6 separate regions of the Homo sapiens genome follow, and all the other regions are linked to region 4. The links come from fine-mapping of genetic effects on gene expression. A gene starts in region 4. Each other region holds a variant in brackets. All regions are shown on one strand. Distances are between the middles of the regions.

Region 1 (4,932 bases), 30 kb before region 4:
CCCTTGTCACCTAGGCCTGCCTCTCCACAGGACTGCCTTGAGACATGGCATCTGGCTCCCTCCAGGGCTGGCAATCCAAGAGGGCAACAGAGAACACCCAAGCTGGCAGCTGCAGTCTTTTTATAACCTGATGTCAGAAGTGATGTCCCATTCCTCCTGCTGTGTTCTATTTGTTAGAATCAAGTCAGTTAAGTCCAGCCAACACCCGAGGGAAGGGATTACACAAGGGTGTGAAGACCAGGATGTGGGGACCAGTGGCGGCATCTTAGAGGCTTCCTTCCACAGCACTCAAGGAGGATCAATATTCATATGGCACTCTTTATACTAATGAAAAAATGGAAGTGACCTAACTGTATATGACTAGAGAAACGATGGCTTATTTAGACAATGGGGGCTGGCACAGTGGCTCACGCCTGTAATCCCAGCAATTTGGGAGGCCAAGGCAGGTGGCTCACTTGCGCTCAGGAGTTCAAGACCAGGCTGGGCAACTTGGCAAAACCCTGACTCTATAAAAAATACAAAAATTAGCCAGGCATGTACCTGTAGTCCTAGCTACTTGGGAGGCTGAGGTGGGAAGATTGCTTGAGCCTGGGAGGTGGAAGTTGCAATGAGCCGAGATCGTGCCACTGCACTCCAGCCTGGGTAACAGAGCGAGACCCTGCCTCAAAAAAAAGTCAATGGAATTGTATACAGCAGTTAACAAAAAGGAGAAAAAAGAAGACCATGAACCACATCTATGTATCAACATGGATACAGCTTAAAAATTGTTGACAAAGTAGTCAAGAACAAATTACAAAGTGATATATATATATACCATTTATGAGTATTTCTTTCTGTTTTCTTTTCTTTTTTTTTAAAGACAAGGTCTCACTCCACTCCATCATCCAGGCTGGAGTACAGTGGTGTGACCACAGCTCACTATCACCCCAAACTCCTGGGCTCAGGAGAGCCTCCCACCTCAGCCTCCTGAAGAGCTGGGACTACAGGTACATGATGCTGCACCCACCTAACTGTTGTTGGTTTTTTTGTTTGTTTAAAAAACAAAACAAAACAAAACAGGGTCTTGCTATGTTGCCCAGGCTGGTCTTGAATTCCAGGCCTCAAGCCTCCTCCTGCCTCAGCCTCCCGAAGAGCTGGGATTACAGGCGTGAGCCACCATGCCTGGGCCACCATTTATGAGTATTTCTAACACATAAAAACTAATGTTTTGTTTAAGGTTACGCACATGTGTAGCAAGAGCGTAAAACGCGCACAAATATGATCCCTACTTCCCTCCGCAGAGTGGCTATTGGTCACTGGGGAAAGAAAAGAGTAGAGAAGAGGAGAGATGGGCTTGGGCTGGCTCTGTAATGCTCTACTGGAATTTATAGTACAATCAATCAAAATAAAACAAAAATATGGTCTTATTTTTGCTAAAACATACCCACATTTCTGTTACACATATCTACAAAGCATCTGTAAAATCTGGACACAGATGACATTATTTTATTCCTTTACAGGTTGATGTTCTTGATGGCATTAGGTCTCTTCACCTATGTTTCTAGACTTTATGCACACTTCTGGAGAGGCAGAAATGAGTCTGGAGGGGTATAGCTCAGAATGCTAATAAAAGTTATATGGAGGTGGGCAGGGTAGTTATGGGGGAATTTTTTTCTCTGTTTTTCTGTGTTTTCCAGTCTTACCAAAGAGACATAGAATATTTGGGTAAAGAAATAAAAACTTTCTTCAAAAATCAAATCAAACTCAAAGCCAAAATGGCCACAGCTGAACACCAAAGCACACCAGCTCTGAGAGCACAGAGCAATTCCAGGAAGGTTTGCCTGGGAACACAGCTGCCCACGTGGGAAGAGAAGGTGCTGGGCCACAGGAGGCTGGCTTAGGCTGGCTTGGGCTACGGTGATACATCTGCCAGCAGGATCCCGAGAGGTGCCAAGAGGCTGCAGCCCACCCATCCCTGGAGGGAATGGCCTCCTGACTTTGCTGAAAGGAGGAAGTTGTGAGGCCAGGCTGGCTCCTTGACCTCCAACAGACAGCAGGGGTCAGATGGAGAAACGTTACACCAGTTCCCCAAGACAGACACAAACATCCACAATTCACTGTGACCACCTGATTCACGCTCCTTGGTAATTTCCCGAGTCTCTCCTGTGAAAATGCATTAGTTTTATCGTAGGGAAATTAGTAAACTTTAAAAAGAGAAGAATCTTTGTCTAGCATTTACAATGCCCAAGAGGCTGATTAAAGACCCAGTGCAGAGATCGTCAGCAGGTCAGGCCCCTGGTGGCAGCGTCCAGGCGTCATGGGGCTCAGGCAGGGCCCACTGTGCCCCACACATCCAGTGAGCCCTGAAATCTCCCACAGAGCCCCAACAAAGACCCACCCTGCCCCTCCCCCCTGCACCCCTCACCCCAAGATCAAACTTCACTCAGGCTCCTCTGAGCCCTCTTTCTGCCTCCTGTCTTCAGCCTGCCTGGCCCAGTCTCAGCAAGAATCCTGCTTAGTCAGTTTAGTGAGCCTCTCACGCCCTTCACATCTGACCACCCTTGAGATCCAATCAGTCCTCATCCCCACCTTTGACATCAAAGTCCCCCCCTGCCTTTGGCAAGAATCCCCCTACCTGTGATGTCTTCTCGCAGCTACTTTCCACTCACCCAGCCCACTCCACTTCCCAGCTCTGTCCCTTCCTTGCTGTATTAGGAGTTGGGCTGATCTCTCCCCTGCTGATAAGGTCAACCCCGACTGCATTTTCCTCGAATAAAGCTGTCCTCACTGTTTTAACAAGCGTCTGACTCTTATTTTCCTCCAAGCCTGCAGCCCAGCTAGGGAGTACAGGGGCCCGCTTCACCCCTTCCCTGCACGGCTACCCCCCACCTCCCACCCTGCCTTGCCCACCCTAGGCAGAAGCTGTTCTAGATAAGGGGCAGGGGGCACCGAGGGGCTTCCTGAGAACCGCAGAGGGGCGGGCCAGGGGCTAGAGAGGAAGGAGGAGGGTTCTAGAGAAAATGGAAACCTGTGGGCAGATGGAACTTTGAAAAAAGGAGAACATCATGATGCAACTCAAATGAAGCTTAAATGGAAGGAAATGGTAAATGCTCAGATCAGATGGAGAAGGAGGGGGAAGAAGCTGACGGGA[T/A]CATGGGTGGGTGGAGAGAGCAGTCAGGCTCTGGGCATGACCTCAGCCAGGTCGAGGTACTTCCCCTCTGAAGCCACTGTCCTGTGATCGTCCCCAAAAGCAGGAAGGGAGAAGCAAAGTGAGTACACCTGACAACGGGTGACAAGGAGCGCTCCCTCTGAAGCAACAAGTGACACAGGGCTCATAAATGACAATGGGTGACAAGGAGTGCTCCCTGTGAAGCAACAACAGGTGACACGGGGCTCATAAATGACAATAGGTGACAAGGAGTGCTCCCTGTGAAGCAACAACAGGTGACACGGGGCTCATAAATGACAACAGGTGATGAGGAGAGCTCCCTCTGAATCAACAGGTGACACAGGGCTGTCTCGTAAATGACAACGGGTGACAAGAAGGGCACCCTCACCACACACAGGCAGCAAGCCCAGCTGGGGCCACCACAGGATTGGCCAATGTCACCAAGCAGTTGATGGCGGCTTGTTTATGTCCCCATCCACAAAAGACTAGAAACACCATGCCAGACGGGGAGAAAGATGCATGCGGGGGAAGAGACAGATGCCTCTGACAGCCGGGCGTGCAGTGGGGGGCAGACAGCCTCACACCCATCCCTGGACCCCGGGCACAGTGCAGCTGGGCCCAAAGCACACACTGACTTCAGCGCAGCTCCACCACCAGCCAGCGCTTGGCCGTGGAAAAGCTCCTGGGAGGGTGTTCCTGCCCCGGAAAACCTCGCTGCTGCATCCGTTCCACCAGCAAGGTTTCCTGAGTGTCTCCTGGGTTCAGAAACGGTGTCCTGTGGGACAAGGGACATGAAGAAAGGAGCCAGCCCCGTGCCTGCAGAACTCCGAGCTCCCCGGGGAGACAGGAGGAAACGCAGGAGGAGGGGTGACGATGCGTAGGTGGCGAGGTGAGGAAGGAGAGGGCGCTCGGGTGACAGGAAGGGCGCCTGTGGGCTCAGGAGGCAGGAGAGGCGGACGTGCTGAGTAACAGGCAGCCAGCACCCTGTGGCTGGGCCGGGGGCACCTGGGGGCAGGCAGGAGAGTCCAGGCTGTCCCCAGAGCCCGCCCCGCCCTCTGCAGGCTCTTGGCAAGGCCCGCATGCAGTAAGAGGGTGCGGTCACTTGCAAGGCTTAGAGAAACCGCTCCTGCAGCCGGGAGAGCAGATGGGAGGCCACGAGATGGAGCGAGAGGCGGGATGAGGAAGAAGCCAAGATGGCAAGACACAGAGAACTGGAGAGGCCGGGGCTGCAAAGGAGGCACAAGCAACAGGCTTCCCGCTAAGGCTCTCCGAATGCAGGGGTGGGCTTGCTGCACCCCCAGGCTGCACCCAGAAGCTCTGACTCAACCAGCACGGTGTGGGCCTGGGAACCTGCATTCTCACAAAGATGATCGGGGTCCGCAGTCGGAGACACACTGACAGAGAGCCCCTGCCGTGGGCAGGAAGTGAGTTAACGTGGACTGAGTGTGTCCCCCACAAAACCCCTATGTGGAAGCCCCAATCCTTACTACCTCCAGATGTGACTGTATTTGGACACAGGGACTTTGAAGAGGTCATGAAGGTAAAATGAGGTCACTGCGTGGCTCCTGATCTAGGGCTGGTGTCCTCACAAGGAGACTGGGACTCAGACACACTCGGAGGGATGGCCGTGTGAGAACAGAGGGAGAAAGGGCTACACGGAGCCGAGGAGAGAGGCCTCGGGTGACACCAACCCTGCCGCCACCCTGTCTCAGACATCAGCCTCCAATACTGTAAAAAAAAAAGAATTCCTGTTGTTTAAGGCACCCAGACTATGACCCCGTTTC
Region 2 (4,932 bases), 97 kb before region 4:
TTTTAAATTTGGAAGGGAACCTCCAGTGAATCATCACATGCATTATTTGATTCATGTTTAATATCTCTGGGAAGCAATAAAAACAATAAATCATTATTAATAAAATGGCCTCAGCCCGGCTGAAACGCTAGGCACAGAATGGTGATGTTCCAGCCGCCCTCGGTGGCCCCAGCAGCTACAGTCTGGAGTTAACTGTTGGCAAGTGACTTATCCATGATCACCCAGGCCTCTGACTCATAGAGAGTGTGTTTATAATCAGGAGTGGGGCAGCTCATAAAAGCCACTCTTTGCCATCTTTAGTCTTTAAATCACAGCACCAGAGGCCACAGATTCTGCAGGGAGAGTTGTGGCAACGCACCCACCCATACACACAAAGTGTAATCAACACGCAGTCACGGAACACCCCTTACATGCAGGCCACAATGCTAAGTGCTGGGAAGACACCGAAGTGTAAAACGCCCTCAGAGCGCTTCCAGTCTGGTCGGGAAAGCAAGACAGGAACTCCTTCTTTCCTTCTCCTACCAAGGTTCAGTTCCTGGCCGGGTGCGGTGACTCATGCCTGCAATCCCAGCACTTTGGGAGGCCGAGGCGGGCAGATTACCTGAGGTCAGGAGTTCAAGACCAGCCTGGCCAAGATGGTGAAACCCCGTCTCTACTCAAAATACAAAAATTAGCCGGGCGTGGTGGTGCGCGCCTGTAATCCCAGCTACTCAGGAGGCTGAGGCAGAGAATCGCTTGAACCCAGGAGGCGGAGCTTGCAGTGAGCTGAGATCACACCACTGCACTCCAGCCTGGGAGACACAGCGAGACTGTCTCAAAAAACAAAAACAACAACAACAGCAAAAGCTTCAGTTCCTGCTCTGAGCCTGGCGCCGGGCTTGGGTGCTGGATGGCAGAGGGAGACAGCATTCCAACATGGACCAGCAGCCTCAAGCCTCCAGCTTCCCAGCTGGGCCCCAGTTCTCTCCTGACCCTTTTCCCAAGGACAGAGAGCTGGGTTCCATTTACCCAGGGTGTGGCTAGGAATAATCCCATAACCAATTATTAGCACAGCGCCTAGAACACAGGAAGCACACAGTAATTGTTTGACGAGAGGCAGGAAGGAAGTCAAGGAGGGAGAGAGAAGGTCCGGGTGATCTAGGCGCTCCTTACAGACAACTTCCAAATCCTCTGCAGATCCGGCCTTGGAATAGTGGATCTTCGGCCACCGCGGCACTGTCTGTGCACCCTCCGAGAGCCCCATCAGACACATTCTAGCCCAGATAGTCTCTAGCCTCAGCAAAAGAGCCAGTTTCCCGGAGACCCTCTGGGGGCCTAGGAACACCCAAAAGAACAGATATTTGCTAAACATCGTCTATGATCCCAGTGATTACTTCTAAGCTAAAAATTTGCACATGGGGTCTGAGAAGTCCAAGAATATTCTAGGGGGTAACTGAGAGAAAACGTGTAATCTGGGCTGTCCCAGAAATACCAGGCCCTGTGCCTGGTGTGGTGCTGGATGCCTGGGGAAGGGGAGCAAAGATCACTGTGGACTCCACCTAGAGAGGCCGGTGACATGGGTGGGGAGGAGCCTGGCTGGCTCGGACCTGGCCTGGAGACCCGGGGCCAGCAGGCAGCAAGGTCAGGGGAGTGTCCTTGTGCAGCCTCGGCTGTGGCTGCCTGTGTGGCTGAGCAGACTAAGGGGCAGGTCAGCCGCCCTTCCTTCCACCTCTGCCTGGCATCTCCCAACCAGATGGGGAGGCTAGGCCGGTCTTGCTCATGTGGGATCTGGATGCAGCCCTTCACACAGAGCCCGACATGGAGCAGATGCTCCGGAGATGCTGACGGCTAGGATTCCCCCGCCAGGCACCTGGCGGTCCTGCAGAAGGGCCAGGACAATGTCCCCAGCCCTCCACCAATTCCAGGGCAGATGAGAATGCCAAGTTGTGCCTGCCC[A/G]CAATGTGTGTATGTGTGTGCGTGTGTGTATGTGTGCATGTGGGTGTGTACGTGTGTGCAGGCACGTGTCTGCCCACAATGCTTGTCAGACAGGATCTGCCCTCCGTGGCTGAGGGCTGGAGGGGACGACCACAGGAAGTGATACTGCCAAGTCATCCCAAGTCACCCTAAATATAACCCTCAATGTACAACACAGGAGGATTGTCCCTTCCCCGCTGCCCTGCCTCATGACCAGCGTCTGCCTAGGAGGGCACTTCCAGAAAGGCCGCTCAGATGGCTCTCTGAGATGCCCGCCTGGGATCCACGGCCTGGCCAGCACTAGAGGGGAGGCAAGCCTGGGGTCCTGCTCTTCCGGCCCCAAATCTCCATGGCCCTGTTCATCTAACTTCTTCCAGAAGAATTGTTGGCTACACAAATCACTATGAGCAACAATGATCTCTTAAGCCTGGGAGGAGGCATCCTTATTTAAGGGACACAGAGGGCTGCCGTATGGTGGGGGTCTGGCTGTGCCGAGATGCTGCTCGCACCTGTCTTCCTCAGCGGTCGGGGTTGCCAGCGTCCTGCCCCTCAGGTGTGACCCACTCCGACCTGGCTGAGCCGCCTGCTCGCCCCCTCCTTGCCACGGGTGCACGTCTGCCACAGGCCCTTTGCACCAGCTGCTCCTTAGCTAGAAGCACGCCCGTCCCTGACCTCCTGCAGGCCTTTGGTCAGGTCTCATCTCAGGAAGGCCTTCCCCAAGCACTCTATCCAAAACCGACACTCATTCTTTATCCCCTTTCCAGCTTGATCCTTTCTCTCATTTCTGTTTTGTTGAGTTCACTGTCTGTCTCCCCTTGAGTGGAGCTCAAGGTCCTTGGGGCCAGGTTTACTCTGGTCTGTTCTCCATCAGAAGCCCAGAGCCTGGAAGCTTGTCTGACACAGGGTACGTGCTCCATGAACCCACCTCAAGGGAAGGAACGCATGAGTGTCTGGGGACGTGGAGAGGGAGGCTGGTAGGGGAGGCTGGGACTCGAGCCTTAGTATGCAGGTGCTGCTTCTCCACTGCCCGGGGAGCGGCCTGCTGTACATGACCAAGGGCCAGGGGCAGAGAGAAGCGGAAGGCCCTTCCAGTGCCCATCACCTGACCCACAACATCCACGGCCAATGGTGTGAATGTGCTGGAAAGTGCCTTCTGATCCCAGAGTCCCTCAACTCGTGGTGGTGGTGGTGGCGGTGGCGGTGGCGGTGGTGGTGGCGGTGGCGGTAGTGGTGGCGGTGATGGTGGCGGTGGCAGTGGCGGTGGTGGCGGCGGTGGTGGTGATGGTGATGGTGGCGGTGATGGTGGTGATGATGGTGATGGTGGTGGTGGTGGTGATGGTGATGGTGGTGGTGGTGGTGATGGTGGTGGTGGTGGTGGTGGTGGTGATGGTGGTGGTGGTGGTGGTGGTGGTGATGATGGTAGTGGTGGTGATGGTGGTGGTGGTGGTGGTGGTGGTGATGGTGGTGGTGGTGGTGGTGGTGGTGATGGTGGTGGTGGTGGTGATGGTGGTGGTGGTGGTGATGGTGGTGGTGGTGGTGGTGATGGTGGTGGTGGTGGTGGTGGTGGTGGTGGTGCAGTGATATTATTTGCTGTGCGTGCACTGAAATGCCCCAGGGGTCTGGGGATGGGAATGGACACCTCGGACCACCTCCTCTACCCTCTTCTGATCTCTTCGCCTGCTCCAGCTTCTTGACACGGGTATCAGCCTCAGCACGACCTGCCGGGCCAGGCGCCTCCCCTGTGCACCCGTGCTGACAGTGGCCTCGGGCCAGGACATTTGTATGCAGGTGACATCCAGGTAACACGGACCCAGATGTTCCCCCACTCTCTAGCTCCAGTAAGGCTGGTGGATGGAGAATGAAGGAGTGGAAGTGGCCCCTTCACATGCAGTTGTGTCTATTTTCTGCTGAGAAAAATACTTTTTTCTCAGCTAACCACACGCTAACTGGCACCCTGAGGCTGAGGCCCCAGCCTGGATGTCTCCTCCCAACCCAGCAGCTACTGTGGCAAGGAGAAAGCGGAAGGAGAAATCGCCTCCCTCAGGAAGAGGAAGGCAGGAAAACCCACCCCACCCACGGGATGCAGATCTAAGGGCGGGGCAGGGGACGGGCAGAGGGTGGGGAGCTCACTTTGCCCTGGAAACACCACGTGCGTGCGTTGGTGCCCAGCGGGAAAGCAGCCACGCCCGGGGTCTGCCCTGGGCCCTGGGCTGACCGGCTGCGGGACTCACATCTACCAGGGCCACAGATGAAACCTGCCACTGGTATCTGCCCTCCACCCCTCACACAGCCCAGAACCCCATCATGAACACTGAAATTAAGACAGTGATGCTTTAACAGGTTTTGGGTCCAAATTTTAGCCTGGCTGAGTATTCAAAGGTGGTTCCTTCTGAGTGGGAAGATGAAAATTATAAAGAGCATCTCCCGTGTCTAGGGCCAAGAAAATTCCAGACTTTTGGAAAGCGACTTTGTATGAGGACTTGGAGGACTTTAATCCTTATACAGGACCCTGCCAAACTCACCAGATGCAAGTCGGTGATGAGGGCTCTCAGGGGCTGGGCATGGCCAGATGGGGCTCTGTCCCCAAATGTCCCTCCCCCAGGTGTCCCCCCGGGAGCCTATGACAGCTGACCCTTGCTACATCCATGGCCCCAACTGATGCTCACAGTATGCAGGAGCAGGTGGGGCAGGGTGGTGAGTGACAAGAGTCACCATAATAGTCATGAGACCATGAGAGGGAGGAGGGAGAGAGAGGAGGAGCTGTGGGGCAGCCAGGTCCTGCTGGTCCAGATACCACAGGGACACTTCACTCCAGGTCTGATCTCGCATTGACCCTGAAGAGGGTGTTTTTATCAACCTTAATATGCACGAGATTGGAAGGGGCTGTGAAGAGGCACAGCCAGAATTACACACTCTCCAGCATCGCATACCTGGTTCCTTGCTTACAAACAAAACCAAACCCTCAACGCTGGAAGGGCA
Region 3 (4,932 bases), 92 kb before region 4:
ACTGGGCCACTAGACCATGCCCCTGGAAGAGAAGAGCGACAGGTCACGCAGGCTGTGACGACCCGGCCCGGAGCCCATGCCCCTCCCTCTGGTTGCTTCTGTGGTGCCTGCTGGGGGATCACAGTTTTTGCAAGTGCCATGCTACATACAGAAAGCCCTGGCTCCCGGCCTCCGGCCAGCCACCATGGACAGGGGCACATGCCCAAGGCCGCTGCACCCCAGCAGGCGAGAAGCCCAGGACAACGTTGATAGAAGCCCCAAGGTAAGATGCTGGCCACCCTTCGAGTGAGGTTGCTGGTTACTACAAAACTGGCATGGAAACTAAGTGTGGCCGGGACCTCTGTGGTCCACAAACTCAGGTTCAAATCCCAACAGCATTGTCACCTGGGGCCATCACAGACGCACAGCCTCCGTCCTCACCCAGCACTCTACACTCTGCACCCAGGGCTGTTACGAGGGTTCAGTGGAATCAGGCACACCCAGGCCTGCCACCCACGACTGTGCCCTGCTCCCTTCAGGGTCTCTCCAGCCTCCACGGTTTCTTGACTGGCATACCTGGGTTGGCCCCTCATCACCCGACCTCCTCCTTGAGGCCCACATTGCCCCCAGCATGCCTCCTGGGCCCAGCACAGGGCACACACTAGGTGCTCAGGAAGAGGTCAGGACGCATCACCTGACATTCAGCCCGCAGCTCAGCTCAGAAAACCATCCAGAGACTGAGAAGGAAAATTTGCATTGCGGGTGTCTAGGTGCTCGGCCACTCCCACCCTCAACCCTCACTGCCAGCTCTGGCACAAGCGTTCCAAGCACCTTTCACGTGGCGTGAACTCGGGACGGGCCCGCCTCCCTCTTCTCTGCCTGCTCCCCGGGCATGGATTGGTGACTCCTCCTCCGTGAACCTGCAGCCTCTGGTACATATGTGTATTAACAGTGTTGAGGCCGACAGCTCTATACAACCAGGCTCCTTGCTAAAGGCTGTCTATGCATTTGTACTCATTATCCAACGTAATCCACACAGCAGCCCTGGGAGGCAGGCACAATCATCATCCCCATTTGACAGACGGGGAAAAATGGAGGCTTACAGGAGCTAATTACCTGCAAGATCATGTGTCTTCCAAGGGGCCGAGCCAGGATGGAATCCTGACAGTCACTTCACCTGACGGCCCGTTTCTCTTCCGCATCTACCGCACACTCCCTAATTACTTTCTCCCAACGCAAGGTTCTCTCTCTCATAGCAACGATCCCGCTTTACAAGCACCCACTAGACGAAGTGGCTTGTTCACCCTAGAACACCCAGCCTCAGCACAGTGCGGCGTGCCAGCGGGGCTCCCCTCGCTCCTGCACAATGGGGGTGCTGCACCTCTCCCCTCCTTCCACCCACCCACCAACCCACCCCCCTGACTGTGAGCGCCACAAGGTCAGGAAATCGTCCGTTTCACGTCTATGCGTCCAGAGCCTGGACACAGCAGGTGCTCAACAAATAATGTTTGACAAATGAATGCCCCCGAGATGCATCACGTGTGATTGGAAATAGGGTGTATCTTGCTCAGAGTTAAATTTCTACTGTTTCCCAAATATAGAATTTTGTAGGCCAATTATGGAATGTAAACTCACTGCTAGAATTCAAGACCTGACAAAGTCATACATCTTCCCACCAGAAATTCTCACTGCAAGGTCCCTATGCTTTTAAGATAGCAGTGTGTGTGTGTGTGTGTGTGTGTGTGTGTGTGTGTGTGTGTGTGTTTTAAAGATAGATTTTAGGCTGGACACCATTGTTCACGCCTGTAATCCCAGCACTCTGGGAAGCTGAGGCAGGTGGATTGCTTGACTCCAGGAGTTCGAGACCACCCTGGGCAACATGATGAAATGCCATCTCTACTAAAAATACAAAAAATTAGCCATGCGTGGTGGTGCGTGCCTGTAGTCCCAGCTACCTGGGAGGCTGAGGTGGGAAGATCACCTGGGCCCAGAAGGCTGAGGTTGCAGTGAGCCGAGATCACACCACTGCACTCCAGCCTGGGTGACAGTGAAATGTTGTCTCAAAAAAATAAAATAAAATAAAAGATTTTATTTTTTAGGTCTTCCCAACAAAATTGAGCAGAAAGTTCCCACACACCCCTTACACCACTCCCGGCCACAGCCTTCCCCACGATCCACATCCCCTGCCAGAGCAGGCCATTTGTTACAACTGAGGGACCTGCACTGACCATCATCACCCCCCAGGTCCGCAGCTCACGTTAGGGTTCCCTCTTGGCGTGGGCCACTCCGTGGGCTTTGACAAACGTGTACCGATGCGCACCCACCATTACAGCATCACATAGCGCGGGCTCGCTGCCCTAAAGCCCCTCTGTGCTCTCTGCCTTGCCCCATATTTTCTCACGGCGTTTTCAAATCGATGATCTCAGCCAATTTATCTCACAGCTCCGTGCGCACTGCTTTGACACTCCGAGAAATCAAGACCTGGACAGGGTCAAGGGCTCTCCACGAGGAGAAACCCAGCAATGGAACCAGCAGCAGAATGTACCAGGTCCTCATTTCATCATCCCCTTCCTACCGGCCTGGCAGAGAGCTCATTCTCAACTGTTTATGGAGAAGGAAAGAGACTCCGGGACACCAGCTCAGGTGACACTCGGCTAAATGGGGTGTGGGGCGCCCAAAACACAAATCCCCAAACCCATGCTCTGTTCTTTTCAGCTGCTCTGGTTAGTTACAAGGTTTTTTTTT[TG/G]TTTGTTTGTTTTTCAGGAGACAGGATCTCGCTCTGTCACCCAGGCTGGAGCGCAGTGGCACAATCAAAGCTCACTGCAGCCTCAACCTCCCAGGCTCAAGCAATCCTCCAGCCTCAGCCTCCCAAGTAACTGGGACTACAGGTGCACCCCAATCTTTTTTTTTTTTTTTTTCATTTTTAGTAGAGATGAGATCTCACTGCATTGCCCAGGCTGGTCTCAAATTCCTGGGCTCAAGCCATCTGCCTGCCTTGGCCTCCCTCAGTACTGGGATTACAGGTGTGAGCCACCACGCCCGGGCCTAAAGGGGATTTTTAAAAGGCCATGGAATGCAGTGAATAAGCATCCTCCTGGGGTAGGAGGGGCCTCTGCATGCCCCCAGCTGGAGCAGGTGAGCACAAGCCTGCTGGCACGCTCAGCAAGCACACCCTATCTCCACATTGAGGTCCCTCGCTATCTGGTTGCAAAGGCCCCACTGTCTCCAGCTTCCTGGGGGCAGCCCTGCCTGGCCAGCACTCTCAGTGACCAGCTCCACAGAGGCATCTTTCCTCTGTCCCACCACAGCCAGGCCAGCTGAAGGGGAAAATGCTGGGTGGTGGGAGGGTGGAGAGGAAGTGCTGGTTCCAGGTTGGCCTGTGCCTTGGGCACATCCTGTGACCTCTGCCATTTCCAGTTTCCCCATCTGTGACAAAGTGGATGAGCTGGACTCCGCAGAGGAGGCCCAGCCAGCTCTGACACCAGGCTTCCTAGCAGGAAGGGGGTCTGCTGTTCCGGAGACCTTGAAGGAATTGGCGCTCAGGCTGCTTGGGAACACTCCATTAACTCGAATTGCAAATTTCCTCCTGGCTCTATCTCTAAGCCACAGGGGCTCCCTGGCCACCAGCTTCCCAGTGACAGATAGAGATTACAGTCATTGCTCGAGACAGAATCAAGTAGCAGAAGTCATTATGCAGAAATAATTATGTTGAGTTATGTCTGGTTGCTCCCGATTTCTGTCTGGCGATTGTCTTACAAATTGCCATGCCTCTTCCTCTAGAAAAGCAAAATGCAGAGGCCTGGGTGATTCATACAGACCTGCTGGGCACAGATCTACTGCTCCAAAGTCCTGCCAGCTGGGGCGTCACACCTTAGGGTAGGGTGCTCTGTGCTGCCCTTTGGCTGAGCGCTTGGGAGAGGAGGTTAGAAGATGAAAGCCCCAGAAGGGGACATCCGAACTCCCCAACTGGGAGTCTGAGCCCTTCACACACACGCTTTTCCTGGGGCCCTTCCGACCCCACCTCCCCCAGCCCTTCGTTCATGTCAGGCCTTAGGCCCCTCTCCGAGTCTCTGGAGAATGGCAGAGGGAGGTGGCAAGGCCAGGGGCTGCATGGCTGGACTGTCTGGAATCAAAGCCCAGCTGGACTGTTTCCTATTTCCTAACAGTGTGACCTTGACCTGTTATCTCACCTCTCCCTGCTTCCACTCCCGCATTTGTAAAATGGAGATGACAATAGTACTACCTAGCTCATCAAGTTTTTGTAAAGATTAAATGAGCTAATGCACAACAAATGCTTGGTACATAGAAAGAACTCAATAAATGTCAACTATGACTGAAAGAGCAGGGGAGGCCTGCAAAATCTAAGCCAAGTAGAAAGACACAAACTACCAGAACTGTCTCAAGAAAGAGACAATTTGAAAGACTTATAACACGTGAAGAGATTGAATTAGTAATCAAAACACTATCCACAAAGAAAAGCCCTGGCCAAATAGCTTCACTACTGAATTCTACAAATATTTAAGGAATACCAATTCTTGGCCAGGTGTGGTGGCTCGCACCTGTAATCCCAGCCCTAAGGGAGGCCAAGGTGGGAGGATCGCTTGAGCCCAGCACTGCGAGACCAGCCTGGGCAACATAGTGAGACCTCATCGCTACTAAATAAATAAACAAGCTAGGCATGGTGGTGCATGGGGGTAGTCCCAGCTACTCAGGAGGCTGAGGCAGAAGGATCACTTGAGCCCAGGAGTTCAAGGCTGCAGTGAGCTATGGTCATGCCACTGCACTCCCGCCCGAGGGATAGATCGAGACCACGTCTTAAAAAACAACAACAGCCTGGCATAGTGGCTCATGCCTGTAATCCCAGCAATTTGGGAGGCCAAGGTGGGTGGATCACGAGGTCAGGAGTTCAAGACCAGCCTGGACAAGATGGTGAAATCCCGTCTCTACTAAAAA
Region 4 (4,932 bases):
GCTTGAGACAAAGGGCTGGCTTTAACTAGAAAAAAACAAAAACAAAACAAAACACAAACCTGGGTTTGGGTCTGTCTTCTGAGCTGAGAAAGCCAGACTGATTTTTTTTTTAATATTATTATGGAACCTGATTATGAGGAAAGAGTAGGATTCACACCAAAAGCCCTTTTTTCTTGTAGGACATAAAATCATTTGATGAAACAGAAAACAGGGTGCATTCTAAGTGTGCCCCTGTCACTAAGTCAGGATGAAAAATGAGAAAATGAGTTCATCGCATCCCCCTGGCCTGCCATGGCTAGGATTGCAGGGCTTCAGTCTCGGCCGAGGGAAACCAAAGGAACCGGACCAGGTTTCTATCCCTGGCTCCTAAAAGCCCGCAAAGCAGCCCGCCTCTCTGGGAACACCATCACGTAGCCCCTGACAGTTGGGAAGCGCATCCATACCAAAAGGCCGCCCATGCTGTCCCCTCCGCAGCCCAACCCCATGCCGGCGCTCCATTTTGAGAGCCTCCTGCACTGGTGAGATCTTGGCTCCCTTGGTTAAAGGCGATTTTTTTCCCCCAGAGAAAGACACCAAGGCGATGAAGGGAAAGAATATCCTTCGCTCTGGCCGAGAGCCACCCGACCCCTAGAGCTGGCCTTGCTGCGTCCGAGCCAGCGCCGAGGCGCCAGAACTCTCCAGAGAGTGAGTCGTGGTAAGAGCTGGGTGCTCGTTCACTGCGGTTCAATTTTACGACTAGTAGGTTTCAAAAGTAAATGTTTTAAATTAAGGTGTGGGACTAGGAGGAGGTGTCCCATGTGGCACCCCCGGCATGAGGCTGGCTGCAAGGGAGCAGGGATGGCAGGGGCTGGGGCTGGGGGTTGTCTAATGCCGAGGCCAGCAGCTGGACTCGGCGTCCCTGGCAAACATCCTCCTCTGGTGGAATTGGGGTCAGCCAGGAGGAAAGGGGTGGCCTTTGGCGGCCGGGACACCCCGGGAGCCCGAGATCTGCATGTGCGGGAAGCGCCAATTTTACGCCGTGACTCTCGGACTCCACGAGCTGAGCTGCATCCTCCCGGACTAGGAACTTGTTGAACCAAAGGGTTCTCAACTCCGCAGTCGCTGCCTCCCGGCCAGGAGAGGGACCCCCACGCTTGCGCGGGAGCCTGGGGGCTGGGGCAGGGCCGGCGCCCAGCGCGGCGCTCTCGGGCACTCGCGGAGGCGGCGCCGCCCGGGAGGTGCTGCAGGAGGCAGCGCAGCTGGCAGCTAAACTTTCTCGAATCTCAGTGCTTCGCGGTTAAGTTAGGGCCAGGGAGAGGCACAAAACACGCCCGGGGAAAATGTAAGGCCCCACCCACGATAAAGGGGAAAAAAAAAGGATTTTAAACAGGAGACGCTAATCCAATTAACACAGTACCTACTGTGTGCGGGGCTTTGGACCAAGAGCTGTCTTCAGTGCGTTCTCATTTCACCTGTCACCACAGCCCCCAAGGGAGGAGCTGTCCTCATTTTAAAGAGAAGCAAACCGCGACCGGGGAAGGTGGCGCGTCTGGCCCAGGTCGCAGTGCGGGTCGCGGGGAGGCCAGGGCTCTCCTCGTCGCCCCATGGCCCTGGGAGGAACGAGCGGATCGCCTCCGCGTGGGCCCCCACCCTTGGCAGAAGCTCACAGGCGACCCACGTGGGCCGCACGGACCTGTTCCCTGAGGGCTGCCCAGCCTGCCCGCGAGGCCCGCCCTTGCCCGTCGGGTCCCAGCTGTCCTCGAGGCTCCTAAGCTACGCACTGCGCCGACCAGCAGGGACAGGGGGCTCTGGGCGTGGGGCTGGACCACCCACACCCACCCCGCCACCCCGCTCTGCGCACAGCTGCTCACACACGACACCCGCCAGGCACCGCTCCCCACCAGCAACTGCGCCCCGACACACAATTCCACAAACGCAGTCCAAAATGTGCACACCTAAGGCACACATGGATGCCCACGAGTACACGCCATTCGAAAGACACACCACCGTCCGCAGTCACCCACAACTCCACCGCGCAGAGAAACGCGGGCACTCCCGGACACACACACGCGCGCACAACACACACGCAAAGAGCCGGATCGCAGCGCTCGCCGGTGCACACGCCGGGTGCACACGCCCGGGGCACACTTCAGCAGCCAGCAGACCGCAGCCCGCCCCTTCCCTACCTGCTCCGGCGCAGGACGCGGTCCGCCGGCTTCCCGAGCCCAAGTTCGGCGCCGGCGGCGGCTGCAGCGGGCCCGGGCCGCTGCCCGGGACAAGCGCGCCGAGGCCGGGAGGAGTGACTAGCAGCGCGGGCCTCCGTGCGCCCGCAGCTGCTGCGCCGGCCCTGCGCTCATCGCCGCCCAGAAAGACAAAAGGAAGCCGGCAGCCAGGGAGGGAGCAAGGTGGAGGCGCCCGTCAGTCCGCCCGTCCGCTGCCCGCCGCCGCCGCGGCCCGCCTGCCAGCTCCGGGAAGGAAGGGACGCGAAGGCGGGACCTGGAGGCGGGACCCGGAGGCGGGGGCCGGGGCGGGGCGCGCGGCCAGAGGCGGGCGCTCAAGTTTCCTACGGCCCCGCCCCCTCCGGGCCCCGCCCCCTCCACGCCCCCTGCCGGACCCTCAGCGCCCGGCTCGGCCCTCGCAGCCCCTGCACCTCGCTGCTCCTCGGCCCTCGCGGCCCAAACCTGGCCCTGCCGGGTCCCAGCCCCCAGTGGCTTTCGGGACAGGGGCGGAGCCGGGCACCGGTTCTGTTCCCCTAACCCTTGGCCTCTGGCCTGCTGGTATAGAAGAGGCCGAGAGGCGGCGCCCGGGAGGGGCCAGCCCTGCGCCCGCGCCCCCCGCCCCCACGCCGCAGGAAGTGGCCCGGGCGGCCTAGGAAGGGGAAGAGCCGAGTTGCCCCAGCCCCGCACCCCCAGCCCCAGCCCCGCGTGCAGCTCGCACCCCTTCCCACGCCTGTTCGGGGGAGAGCCCCGGGCCTGGAGTGGGAAGCCTGGCTCCAGCTCTGGTTACCTGCAGTGACTCCCCAGGCCGTTTAGGCGAGTCCATTGGGCCGCCTCTGCCTCGGTTTCCCCACCTAACCACGGAAGGTGCTCCTCCCTTCCAGGCATCTGTGGTCTTCGAGCTCCACGCGGGAGAGGCGCCGGTCTGGCACCTCCTGCCCAGGGTCGGCGCCTCCTGGCTCTCGGGGAGGGGGGCATCCTCCATCCCCTGCACCTGCCTCGAGAGGAACCAGGGACAGAGCACCCCCACCCCCACCAGGAGCTCCGGAAAAACGGCTTCAGAAGAGCAAATATACACACACACCCACCTCCCGCCCCAAACATCCCCGAAGAAAGGTAACCACAGAAACAGCCAGAAATGTGGAGCTGGGCGATCGTATGAGGCTGAGACAAAACTGTCTTTCTAGCGTCTCTAGGGGAGAGCTTGAATCCCTCCTTCCACTCCTCCTCCACGGAAAACAGAGTGAACTCCTGCTACAGAGGCCGCCAGAGCAACATGCAAGACCAGCTTTGAGGGGAGCGGGCACAGGGCCTTGCAGGGAAGGTGGGCCGAGCCCAGACCCCTCATTCTTACTTGGCTCTGAAGGCGGAAAGGCAAAGCTAGACCTCGAGGAAGTTCCCCTCCCTGTGGGCCCTACAGTGAAGATTACATGAAGGCATGTGGGCGGTGGACCAGAGTGCACCGACTGATGAAGGCGGCCCGGTACCCGCGGGTGCCATGCCTCCTTCTTAGCCAAGGCCACTCTAGCTCCCCGTGAAGTATCCAGGTAGAAGGCTGGTGGGGTTACAGGTGAGAAGCCGTCGGTGGGGTCCAGGAGCCAGGCCTGGGGAAGCACACGTCACTTCCACCCACATCCATGGGCCAGAAGTAGTCGCACAGTCCCACCAGGATGCAAGGGGCTCTGGCAGCTGTGGTCTTCATGAGTGTTTCGGAAGTAAACAAAGCCGGTTTGATGAACACGTAGAAACATCCCTGCCACAGAAACTGAGCAGATTTCTCCCAAGCACACACAGGGCAAAGGGGCAAAGTCTGTCCACAGACTCACAGGAAGGGAGGTGCATGGCAGACACAGGCAGGAGGTGGGGTTGGGGTGGAAAAGTTCAGGGAGGGCTCAAAAGCAGACCAAGGCCTGTTTCTGAAACCCAGCCCACTCACTGGTTCCTCCACACTTGGCCCATGCTGTTCCTCTCCCATGTGACTTTTCCATCTTCCCCCTCCAACCTGTCACCCATCCATCCTTCAAAACTTAGGTCAGTTAGCTCTCACCTAGCCCTCAGCAGCTTAGCCCGCAGATGCTTCCTCTGTTTCTGAACTTCTAGAGAAACACACTTAACCGCAGACCTCTTATTCCAGGAGTGTATCTCTCTCAGATGAGATACAAGTTGGTCCCTTCCCTTGCGTCCCTCCTGTTCCTTCAAGAGGAGGACTGTCTACCCACCCCGAAGCTTCATGGAGAGAGAGCACACCGTCGTTATTCAATATGTAGTTTTGAATTTAACTAGAGCAAAGAAGAAAGCAAATTCAGGTAAGATGTTGTATAATTTCCTGGGGCTAATGTAACAAGCACCTCCAACTGGGCAACTTAAACAACAGAAATGTGTTGTTTTGTAGCTCTGGAGGCTGGAAGTCCAAGATCAAAGTGTTGGCAGGGCTGGCCCCTTTGGAGAGATGTGGGGGGCAGTTTGTTTCATGTCTGTCTCTTAGCTTCTGGTAACCTCATGCATTCCTTGGCTTATGGATGGCCATGTGCGCTCCCTGTGAATTCACATCTTCTCTATATACCTGTCTCTTTTCCCTTTTCATAAGGACACAGTCATTATTGGATTAGGGCACACCCTAATGACCTCATCTTAACTTGATCATCTGTGCAGACCCAATTTCCAAATAAGGTCACATTCACAGGTACCAAGGGTTAGAAGTTCAGCATCTTTTGAGGGAAACAATTCAACCCATAAC
Region 5 (4,932 bases), 66 kb before region 4:
GTCCACTCAGTTCTGGGGGCACAGTCACCTCCAAGGAGACAATGTATAGTCCCACTGGCATTCCCCTCCAACCCCGGTGGCCAGCCAGACCCACTAACCCAAACTGCAAATGACAGGGCCACAACAAACCACATGCCACCCCAAACCCGCCCTGCCTGGCCCCAGGGCTCCACCCCTGCTGCTCCAGGCCCTGGTAACACCCACCTGCCCACTGGCCTCCTCTGTTTGCTCCATGCCAGGTCACTGGACCCTGCAGCCTGGAGGTGCCTCCTCTGTTTGCTGGCTCCATGCCGGGTCACTGGACCCACAGCCTGGAGGTGCCAGCTCTGCCTCGGATCCCACAGGTGAAGGGGGCTGCCCCGTCACACGTCCAATTCTGTGACAACTTTAGGTGGGCCCCCTTAGCTTGGAGATGAGGAAACTGAGCCCCACGGGGATGAAGGATAGCCAAAACCTGGTAGAAAAGTTGGAATTTGAGCCCACGTCCTCCCAGAACGCTGTTGCTACCTGGGAGCCCCCAAGACCCCCAGGAGCAGGGCACCACATCTTTGGGATTTTCCAAAAGCTGGTACACCTGTATGGGTGGCTCCAAAACACACCCCTGGCAGACTCCTGTGCCCTGCAAAAGGCCAATGCCAGCAGTGGCCCCATCATCTGGAGTCTGCCCTATGTGCCCTGGCATCATGGGGCAGCCTTGCCTGAGGGCTAGCTCACAGTTGCTGCTCAGTTCCCACATGTTAGACCCCGCTCTGGGGACCAGACAAAGTGGCTGGCCCTCAGCCAGCCCCTCCTCTGCTCCTTGAAGCCTCTTCCTACCTGCATCCAACTAAGTGTTCCCCAGAGAGCCAGCAGGATCTGCACATGAGGGTTTAGGGCTTGTATGGGTTGGAACAAAACAGGTCAGTGTCAAGCCAGCCTGGAAATCCTAACCCCAAAATCTTCCCCCACTGCCAAGTCCCAAGCATGCACCTGCAGGCAGGCATGGGTGAGCACAGGCTGCTTCTCTGTGCCCCCGCAACATACACAGGTGTCCCACCTGCTCCACGACTGACGGGAATTCGATTGGAAGAAGATAAAAGCAGAGGCGATTTGGGGAATGGGAAGGGAGCCACTACTGAAGGGAAGGAGAAATGCAGGAAGGAGAGTGGAAAGAGGGTGCGCAGATTAGCCAGGCATGCCCAATGGGCCCATACAAAGGAATGCGGAGACTCCACTTGGGCAGAAGGCCAAGGCCAAATACAGTATCTATGTGCCTGCCACTCCTGAGGCCTAACCCAGCACATTTCTTGAAGATAAGTGGGCCAGGTAGGCGCCTGCACATTGAGATAAGGGCTAAGTATAGAAGGAGAAAGTTGTTTTTTCCAAAACGTTAAGAAGCACATTTCAAGGAGTAAGGAGGTCTCAAGGACACACTGGGGGCAGCCTAATGAGGCCAGAGCCTTTTCCTTTTTCAAAATTACAAGCTGAACTTCTATGCCTCCTTTGAGCTCAATTTCAGCTTTCCCTAGTGGATCCGAACACGGCATATTCATTATTATTTGATTAATAAGGACCTGGTGACAGTTTCCAATGGACAAAGTTAGCTGGCTTAACCACCACCTCCTCCAAGAAGGCCTCAGGGATCCCCTCTCAGTTCTCTGCTACATTTAGGCTGCCCCTGAGTCCCATCAGAGCCCACCTCCCTCTGCCTGGAGCCCTTGCTGCTGTTGAACTTGCTCCTGCCTGGGACAGGTGCTCACAAATGCTGTCAAACGGGCCTGAGCTATGAGGCAGCCAGGAAGCCAGGGCTCCGGCCCCACCAAGTGTCAACATCCACCTTGATCCAGCCTCCCAGGCCTGCAAGTACTATGGACTCAGAGGCAGACATTCCTGTAGGTCCTCTATGGATTCTGCAGACAGGCAAGGCCAGAAAAAATCCCGAGAGAATTCCTCAAGGGCTGGAGGAAAATCCTAACTAGCCATGATGGCCGTGGAAGCCATCACAACCCCTTACAAGGGATATGTGAGCCCTGAGGTCAACAAACTCTAAGAGGCAAGATGGGGGCACAGAAATCAGGCCACGGGCATCATGTGACTCACATGGCAGGACTCAGTGGCCCTCTGCTCCCCACATCACAGAGCTGGAGGGGAATCCTTGTGTTGCTGCAGCCACCCCGGCACAGGGTTTTCAGCCTGAGAGGGCTCCTTGATGTGATGGGCAGGTTCCAGTGCGAAGGTGGCCAGCCTGAGGCGACCGTGAGTCCTCAGGCTTCCCCCAGTCACAGGGCAACGCCATCGGCTGCCGCCAGCTTGGGAGATGTGCTTTTGGGAAAATCAAGTCACCACAGCATTCTCCTGCGGTCCCTCCCCACTCGGTTTAGATGTTGGTGAAGAAAACGAAGCCAGTTACGGCAATGACTTCCAACAGATACAATCAAATAATCTATTCCTGGATTCCGCAAGTACTGAAATGTCGGTAATTCAATTCCTGAAATGCCATTTTGGAGCTGCCGGAGCAGGCTGCGGAGAAAGCTCAGTAAACACACACATCAGTTCAAGCCCAAACACACACCCACTGACCTTGAGCCCCGGTGCCCGGCGCTGTGCTGAGAGGCCAGCTCCCCAAGGGCGGCCACCACCAGACAGGGCCTGGGGAATGGGCGGTCCAGGAGGGAGGCAACAGCAACAGCAAATAAATATTGACAACGCTGCAGGAGGCGTGCTGCTGGGAAAATGTGGACGAACTGCACTGAGCTCGAGGAAAGAGTACTCAGTGTGTCTGGGGGAGTCAGAAGGCTCCCAAAGCAGGCTTGACTTACTCTGTGATTAAAAGCCAGGCCGGAGCTGGGAGCTGGGGGAACAGAGAGGTGGGAACCACCCTGCCCTCAAGGAGCTCTGGCCGAGTGAATGCAGACACACATATGCTGACACGCACACACACCTACACACACATATGCACACACACACACAAACCTACACACACTGCACACACACCCACACG[T/C]GCATATGTGCACACACATGCACACCTACACACACGTATGCACACACATGCACAAACCTACACACAATGCACACACACACATGCATATGTGTACACACGCACACCCCTACACACACGTATGCACACACATGCACAAACCTACACACAATGCACACACACACCTACACATGCACGTGTGCACACATGCACACACCTATACATGTGTATGCGCATATGCACACACAGGCACACACCTACACATGTGTATGGACACACACATGGAAAGCTTTGGAACTGAGGTCACCATATGCACACACATCTACAATGCACATGTACACACATACACACCTACACAGGTATATACACACATGCACACACCTATATACACATATGCACACACCTACACACGCATATGGGCACACACGCACATACACACATGCAAGCACACAGGCACACAGTCCCAGGGCAGGCAGGGTAAGGGTCACATGAGGAATCCTGAACACCCCACACTGTGTGGGGATCCAGGGCCGGCGAGGGTGGCCGCAGCAGCAGAGGCTGCTCATGTCCGAAGCTCTGTCACCCTCCACTCCAGCACAGGGCTCACACTGACATCAGTTCTAAGGCTTTCCATGGGAGTGTGGGTCATGGGACTGTGATATGGGACAAGGGCTTTTCTGGCACTTTCGACAAATTTTTGCAAGGAAGCATAAAATTTACATCTAAACCAACCCGTGGGATGACAGTGATTGTTGTTGCTATTATGATTTTGCTTTACATATTATTATACTTTCTGAAATGTATGAATTGGAGATTAAAATTTTAGTTGAGCCCAGGAGTTTAAGACCAGTCTGGGTAACATGGCAACATCCCATCTCTACAAAAAATTAGCCATGCGTGGTGGCGCACACCTGTAGTCCCAGCTATTCAGGATGCTGAGGTGGGAGGATCACTTGAGCCTGGGAGTTTGAGGTTGCAGTGAGCTATGATCGAGCTCGCACTCTAGCCTGGGTGACAGAGCAAGACTCTGTCTCAAAACAACAACAACAACGACAGCAACAAAATCCCCCCTTAAAACAACACTACCATCCGCCCGTCATCTGTATATTAAATATCTAACTGTAAAAAGTCTCAGCCTATTTTGAGAGATGAAGTTACCCTCAAGTCCCAAGCAGATGACAATAAACTGGAAAAGCAATGGGAAATCTCCAGACAGAACACCCAGGTCCTCCACCAGATGCTCCTCCCGGTCTCTCTTGGGCCATCTGGAGGGTGTCAGATCAGCTGGGCGAGCAAGGGCAGGGCCAGCCTCACTGTGGGATCTCAGGCAGCCTCCTCGCCCAGCCAACGTCTTTGTCCCAACACATCAAGGAACCTGGCGTCCCTCACCCCAGGAAAATCCTGGGCCTACACAGCCTCCTCAAACAAGGTCACTGTATGAGACACACTCAGAGCTGCCCCCGGCCCCAGCATCCTTGGATCTAGCAGTGAAATAGTTGGTGCCTTCACCGTGCTGTGGTGGGAGGCCCAGAGGTCAAGGTGCAGAAAGCCCGTACCACAGAGCTCCTAGTGGAGAAGACGGGAGTGGAAGCACACAATGCAGGAAGCCCGGGGCTGGGGAGCCGGGGCAGGTGCCAGAGAAGGTCTCCAGACCAAGCTTGAGCTGCAGGGCGGGAGTCGGATCATGGCCAGCACTGTGAGCTTGGTATGGGTGAGTCTCCTGATGCCAGACAGATGTGCTCTTGGAACATCTGTCTGTGAACCTCATCTGGGAGAACCAGATCTTTATTTAAAGTAAATTAAGGGGCCAGGCGTGGTGGCTCACGCCTGTAATCTCAGCACTTTGGGAGGCCAAGGCAGGTGGATCCCCTGAGGTCAGGAGTTCGAGACCAGCATGGCCAACATGGTGAAACCCCGTCTCTACCAAAAATACAAAAATTAGCTGGGTGTGGTGGCGGGTGCCTGTAGTCCCAGAT
Region 6 (4,932 bases), 110 kb before region 4:
CATTTCTCAGGAAGTCTTTCATCTCCAAGGAGGATGGTGGGGTAAGAAATGGGAGGCCCAGGGGAGGGCAGTCTATTTGAGAGCAGAACCATCTCCTGCTCGGCTTAAAAAGATTCATATTCAAGCAAGGCTCGGATCAAACTAGTAACAGCTGTCTGAGGGCATCAGAGATGACGTTGTAATTCACGGTGATGGAAACATGGGAGAGGGAGTTAATGAGTCACTTACAGCCACCTCTGTGGTTCTCAGTTACCCTGCTATTGTTCTTAATCTGCTGAATTGTAAAAAAAAAAAAAAAAAAAAAAAAAGAAGAAGAAGAAAAAGAGGAACAAGGAAAGAAATGTAAACATGCAGCTGGGGAGCCCTGTGAGAAATAGTTAACCCAGAGTCGGTATTGCCTGTAAATTAAAGCCTGTTTAGTGGCACAGTTCTAGCAGCTGCTCAGTGAGGCTCCTGGGAACCGAGGGCTTGATTGTCCTGTTAATCCCACCTCAGTGCCGGCTGACGGCATTGGTTGGCATCTCATCCCATTGCTCCAAAATGCTTTCATCAGTCAGATCCCCGAAGCTTGCCAGGCCAACCAGACTCTGAGATGCTTTGAGGGAAGGCGACCAGAGAGGTGGGAAACACCAAATGCTTATGAGAGACCCAGGCTGGCCGGGGCGCCGTGGCTCACACCTGTCATCCCAGCACTTCAGGAGGCCAAGGCAGTGGATTGTCTGAGCTCAGGAGTTCAAGACCAGCCTGAGCAACATGGTGAAACCGTCCCTACTAAAAATATAAAAAATTAGCTGGGTGCGGTGGCACGCACCTGGTAGTCCCAGCTACTCGGGAGGTTGAGACGGGAGAATTGCTTGAACCCGGAGGGTGGAGGTTGCAGTGAGCTGAGGTGGTGCCACTGCACTCCAGCCTGGGCAACAGAGCGAGACTCTGTCTCAAAAAAAAAAAAAAAAAAAAAAAAAAAAAAGACTGAGGCTCAGGAAGAGGCTGGAGAGGCGTTTGTTGTGAATTTGAACTTCAAGGAATCAGAGGGCTCAGGCCATTTGAGATGAGAGCTTGTTCTTCCTGGGGTGGAACAGGAAGGTGGAAGGCAGAAGGGGCCGGTGGAAGACAAACAGGTTTGTGCTCTTTCTTATCCAGCACCCAACCCAGTTCTTTCTCCCGGTGACCGCTGGACCCACACGGCCCCTGCAGCTAAGCCCCTCTCCTAGGGCTGATTGCATTTTTCAAAACAACTCGGGCCTGTGTCCTTCTTTCCTCCAAATAAGCAAGTGACAGTCAAGCTGCCTGCAGCCTTAGCTTCCCGGTAGTTCTCCAAGGAGGGGCCCGTTTTGCCCCTGGGTGATTGCGGGGAGGCTGTGCCGGCTGCCAGGACCCAGGTGCAGGGAGGAGCCGATGCATCTGGGACCATCCAGGCTGAAGTGTGGCTGGGCCGACGCTAGAGGGAGCTGTTGAACAGGCTCCCAGGGCCTGAGCTGAGACCCCGCCCCTCTCAGGTGCCTCCGTGTCTCCACCTATAAGCTAGGGCTGCTTTGTCCACTATGGTCACAACCAGCCACACGTGGCTACTGAGCACATAAACCGTCGCCAGTCTGAACTCATATATGTGCCCTTAGTGTAAAATACACGCCGGATTTTGACGACTTCATATGAAAAAAAACAACATAAAATATCTCATTAATACTTTCTCTTTCTTGATTACATGTGAAATGGTAAATGATACCATTTGGGATCTAACGGTTTAAATCAAACAAGTTTTAAATTTCATCTTTTTTACTTTTCAATGCGGCTATAGAAAAAGTTACAATCACATAGGTATGTGTCTCCCACTTTATTTCCCGTGGGCAGTGCTGGGTA[G/A]AAGTAGCATTCAGTGGGTGATACCAGGGACCCTGGATCTGGGGCTACCAAACAGGGACTCTTCAAGCTCATTAGCACCCTGTGGTATCCTTTATTTATTCACTCCTTAGTGCCCTTGAGTGAAAGATCATGGCGTTTGTATTTCATAATTACCTGTGAGTCCCACACGGTTCTCTTTTCAGCAGGGAGGGCTAGCCTGAGAACGCTGCCAGAGGCCAGCTGCAGTGAGGACCCCAGGTCTGACCCCAGCTAAGGAATGAGGCTGGTGGGGAGGGGCTGCAGAAGGAAAAGGTTCCTCCTTCTCTTTGGAGCTGGAACAGCCAACCCTGCTGAGTCAGATCCGGGGAAAGAGGAGGTTAGTAACACCTCTAGAGTGACAGTTCCAGGGCGTGCCTGCACCTAAACCCAACCCACTGACCTAGAGCTCATTTCTGGAGGCCTTCCTGAAAGCTGTTGCATCACGGCATTTTACCCACTGGAGGGGCTCCAGGCCAATGACCTGTTGTTGAGAAATCCAACCGAAACCTTCTTGACTTCTTACCCATCCCCAGCCTCTTAAACTCCCCACAACTCCCCAAAACCTTACAAGAAAAACATAACATATGAGAAGAGAGAGAGAGAGAGACCCAGCAGGGCACAGAAATCCCCTTCCTCTACCAATCTCTCCTTCTTTTCCACCCTCTCAAGGCTGAAATGCCCTAAATGAAGCTGGTGAGAAGGAAGAGGTGGAGAAAGGAAAAGGGAAATCCCCAAGAGCTGTACTTTCTCTTGCAGAAGCTGCTACTGCGACAGGAAGAGGAATGTGTGGGTGGCTGTCCCTGCACACCTTGTGCCTCTGCAGATATGAGTTCACCCGTGTGGCACGCTCGCCTCAGCCACCCTGCCAACCCCTACTCATCCACCAAAGCCCAATGCAAAGGTCACTCCTCAGGCTTGCCTTTCCCAGCCCCTACAACTGCTCTTCCCTTTGAATTCTAACAGCGTTTTTCTAGTATGAACTCAGCTTTGAACGCGTCACTTCTTTGTCTTTTTCCTTCATTAGACTGGGAGCTCCTGGGGGAAGGAGAATCCTTCATTTGTCCCAGTCAGAGAAGCTGCTCAGCGTGTTCCAGCCTCAGGGCCTTCGCACCTGCAGTTCCCTCCACCTGTCTGCTCTTCCTTCCCCTCAGTGTCTGCAAGGCTCACTCCCTCCAAGTTCATGTTCTTGCTCAACAGTCGTGGGGAAACCTCCTCCAAGGACCCACCTCAAAGAGCATCCACCCTCACCCTCTGGTCCCTCACCCTGACCCCTTTCTCAGCATTTCCTGCCACCTGGCACTATATTTACAAAATCTCTTGACTGTCTGCCTCCTTTTGTTCACCACTGTACCCCCACAGGGCCCAAAACAGGGCCTGGCACACAATTCAGTCAATAAATATGTTTGAATGAATGGTTGTGTATTCCAAGCGCCTAGCACAGTGCCTGAGCAAATGAACAAAGCAATGAGTGAGTGGTTCTTTTTCTAGGATCCCTCTTATTCTAACATTCTGTGACTCTTCCAGTTTTAGGAATTGCTGGAGGAAGGTCAGGGGTTAGGATGGTCAAGTGCTCTCCTGCTCAGATTTGAAGCTGCTCCAAGAAGGCACATTCAGACTCGGTATTCTGGAAATCTCTGTTTTCTGGCATGGAAACAGCTGCAGCAGAGTAGAGTTTTGGGGCCATGCCAGACTTGGGGGTGTCCATTTATCAAACTGGTGCCAATCTCCTTCCCAGGTGAACACATCCCAGCTATATGGTCCTCAGCCAGTGGGGTGGGGGACAGGATGGGGGACTTCCTGCTACTCTCCAGTGAGATCATTCCCTGGACCAGTGCGGCGTCATCATAGAGCGAACATCACTCCAGCTTGAGTCTTTGGAGAGGAGCTCTTTGAGCTGCCTCCCAAGCAGAGAAAGGGAGGTGAGTGAAACGGACATACATGAGCCTCTGGGGAGAGAACAGGGAGACAGGAAAAGGGAAACGCCCAAGAGAATGCTCCCCTTCCGTCCGGAACCCTAACCCAGCAGGAAAAGGAAGCTCAAAGGCAGGACCAAAATGAGACCATAGACTTTCTGAAAGCAACCCCCGACCCATGTACGTCTGTCCCTGTGACAGTTCCGTGTTTCTACAGAGGTGAAGGGTGCCGGATGCCAGGCGGGGAGCAGAGCCACGCAGCACCCGTGCCAGGGCCAGGCTAGAGCGAGCCCGGTGGAAATCTGGGTGTGGAGTCCTGGCCACAGAGCCTGGGACTTCCTCTGCCCCCACCCAGGATCTCGCTTTGAAGGCGAAGTTGGGGTTTTCAGTGACAGACCCCAGAAACATCAGGCTGAAGTGAGAGTGGAGTCTCTGGACTGGTTCCTTCACCCACACCTCAGTGGTTCCCGAGTCCTGTTCCATGCTGGGTGTAGTCACACGTGGATGGACAAGACACAGACCCTTCCTGGGGCTCCTTGAAGTGACCCCCCACACACGCCCATGAAACAGCAGTGATGGGCATGAAGAGACTTACGTGGGCTCAGGAGCTCGGGCGCAGAGCACAGAGGTCAGCTGGGATGGGACAGAGCTGAGGGCTGAGCCAGGGCTTAAAGGTTCCAGGAGTTCTCCAGCTGGGACAAAGGGAACAGTGTGTGCCAGGGCATGGGGACAGCGAGCACTGGGTCCTGTGGCACTCAAGCCCTGCACGACGAGGAATCCCCACATGCCACAAAAGACTCTTCCAGTTTCAGTAATGCTGGAAGGAATGACTAAAGGAATTAGCGCGGAGCATGACTGTAGGAGAACGCATGTTGATGACAGCAAGGAGGGGTGAAGGGGAGAAACAGTAGAGGCTCAGTGTGCCCACCTCCCCACTACCCGGTAATGCTCCATAGAACACCAAGAATAATTCTATTACTATTCAATCACACAACAAAAACTCAAAAGCTGAAACAACCATGTGAATCACCCAACGTCCCATTTGCGGGGACTTGGCGCATACTGCAAGCTGACTGCTCTTTGGGAGAAAATGTAAGAGGGCACAGCAGGCTGGAGATACTGAGGCTTTAGACGCCCCTTCATC

The links.
Region 1: its variant is fine-mapped to the expression of HPCAL1 in whole blood (TOPMed, PIP above 0.99).
Region 2: its variant is fine-mapped to the expression of HPCAL1 in monocytes (TOPMed, PIP 0.98).
Region 3: its variant is fine-mapped to the expression of HPCAL1 in blood mononuclear cells (TOPMed, PIP 0.93).
Region 5: its variant is fine-mapped to the expression of HPCAL1 in whole blood (INTERVAL, PIP 0.92).
Region 6: its variant is fine-mapped to the expression of HPCAL1 in whole blood (TOPMed, PIP above 0.99).

The regions. Positions count from the first base shown.
Region 1 is chr2:10,330,437-10,335,368 of GRCh38, reverse strand. All of the region lies in intron 1 of HPCAL1 (hippocalcin like 1), which reads right to left. Among named protein-coding and RNA genes, the nearest start is that of HPCAL1, 30 kb to the right of the region's middle. RefSeq lists enhancers at 3,169-3,756, 3,586-3,785, 4,316-4,415 and a silencer at 4,156-4,205. The variant T/A (reference allele first, on the strand shown) is at 3,131.
Region 2 is chr2:10,397,805-10,402,736 of GRCh38, reverse strand. The region is part of intron 2 of HPCAL1 (hippocalcin like 1); the gene reads right to left. Among named protein-coding and RNA genes, the nearest start is that of SNORA80B, 47 kb to the left of the region's middle. The variant A/G (reference allele first, on the strand shown) is at 1,936.
Region 3 is chr2:10,391,925-10,396,856 of GRCh38, reverse strand. HPCAL1 (hippocalcin like 1) reads right to left here. Exons shown (of 5, transcript NM_002149.4): 2 at 1-22. Among named protein-coding and RNA genes, the nearest start is that of SNORA80B, 52 kb to the left of the region's middle. The variant TG/G (reference allele first, on the strand shown) is at 2,725.
Region 4 is chr2:10,300,411-10,305,342 of GRCh38, reverse strand. It overlaps HPCAL1 (hippocalcin like 1), which reads right to left and starts at 2,439. Exons shown (of 5, transcript NM_002149.4): 1 at 2,166-2,439. LOC101929691 (a long non-coding RNA gene) reads left to right here and starts at 2,626. Exons shown (of 4, transcript XR_922791.3): 1 at 2,626-3,765; 2 at 4,330-4,501. RefSeq lists silencers at 1,545-1,724, 2,043-2,240, 2,125-2,904 and an enhancer at 1,805-1,864.
Region 5 is chr2:10,366,365-10,371,296 of GRCh38, reverse strand. All of the region lies in intron 1 of HPCAL1 (hippocalcin like 1), which reads right to left. Among named protein-coding and RNA genes, the nearest start is that of HPCAL1, 66 kb to the right of the region's middle. RefSeq lists a silencer at 1,680-1,974 and an enhancer at 2,612-3,419. The variant T/C (reference allele first, on the strand shown) is at 2,981.
Region 6 is chr2:10,405,813-10,410,744 of GRCh38, reverse strand. The region is part of intron 2 of HPCAL1 (hippocalcin like 1); the gene reads right to left. It overlaps LOC124905972 (a long non-coding RNA gene), which reads left to right. Exons shown (of 3, transcript XR_007086211.1): 2 at 2,632-2,776; 3 at 2,900-3,287. Among named protein-coding and RNA genes, the nearest start is that of SNORA80B, 39 kb to the left of the region's middle. RefSeq lists a silencer at 1,427-1,556 and enhancers at 1,416-2,028, 2,029-2,640, 1,888-3,087. The variant G/A (reference allele first, on the strand shown) is at 1,858.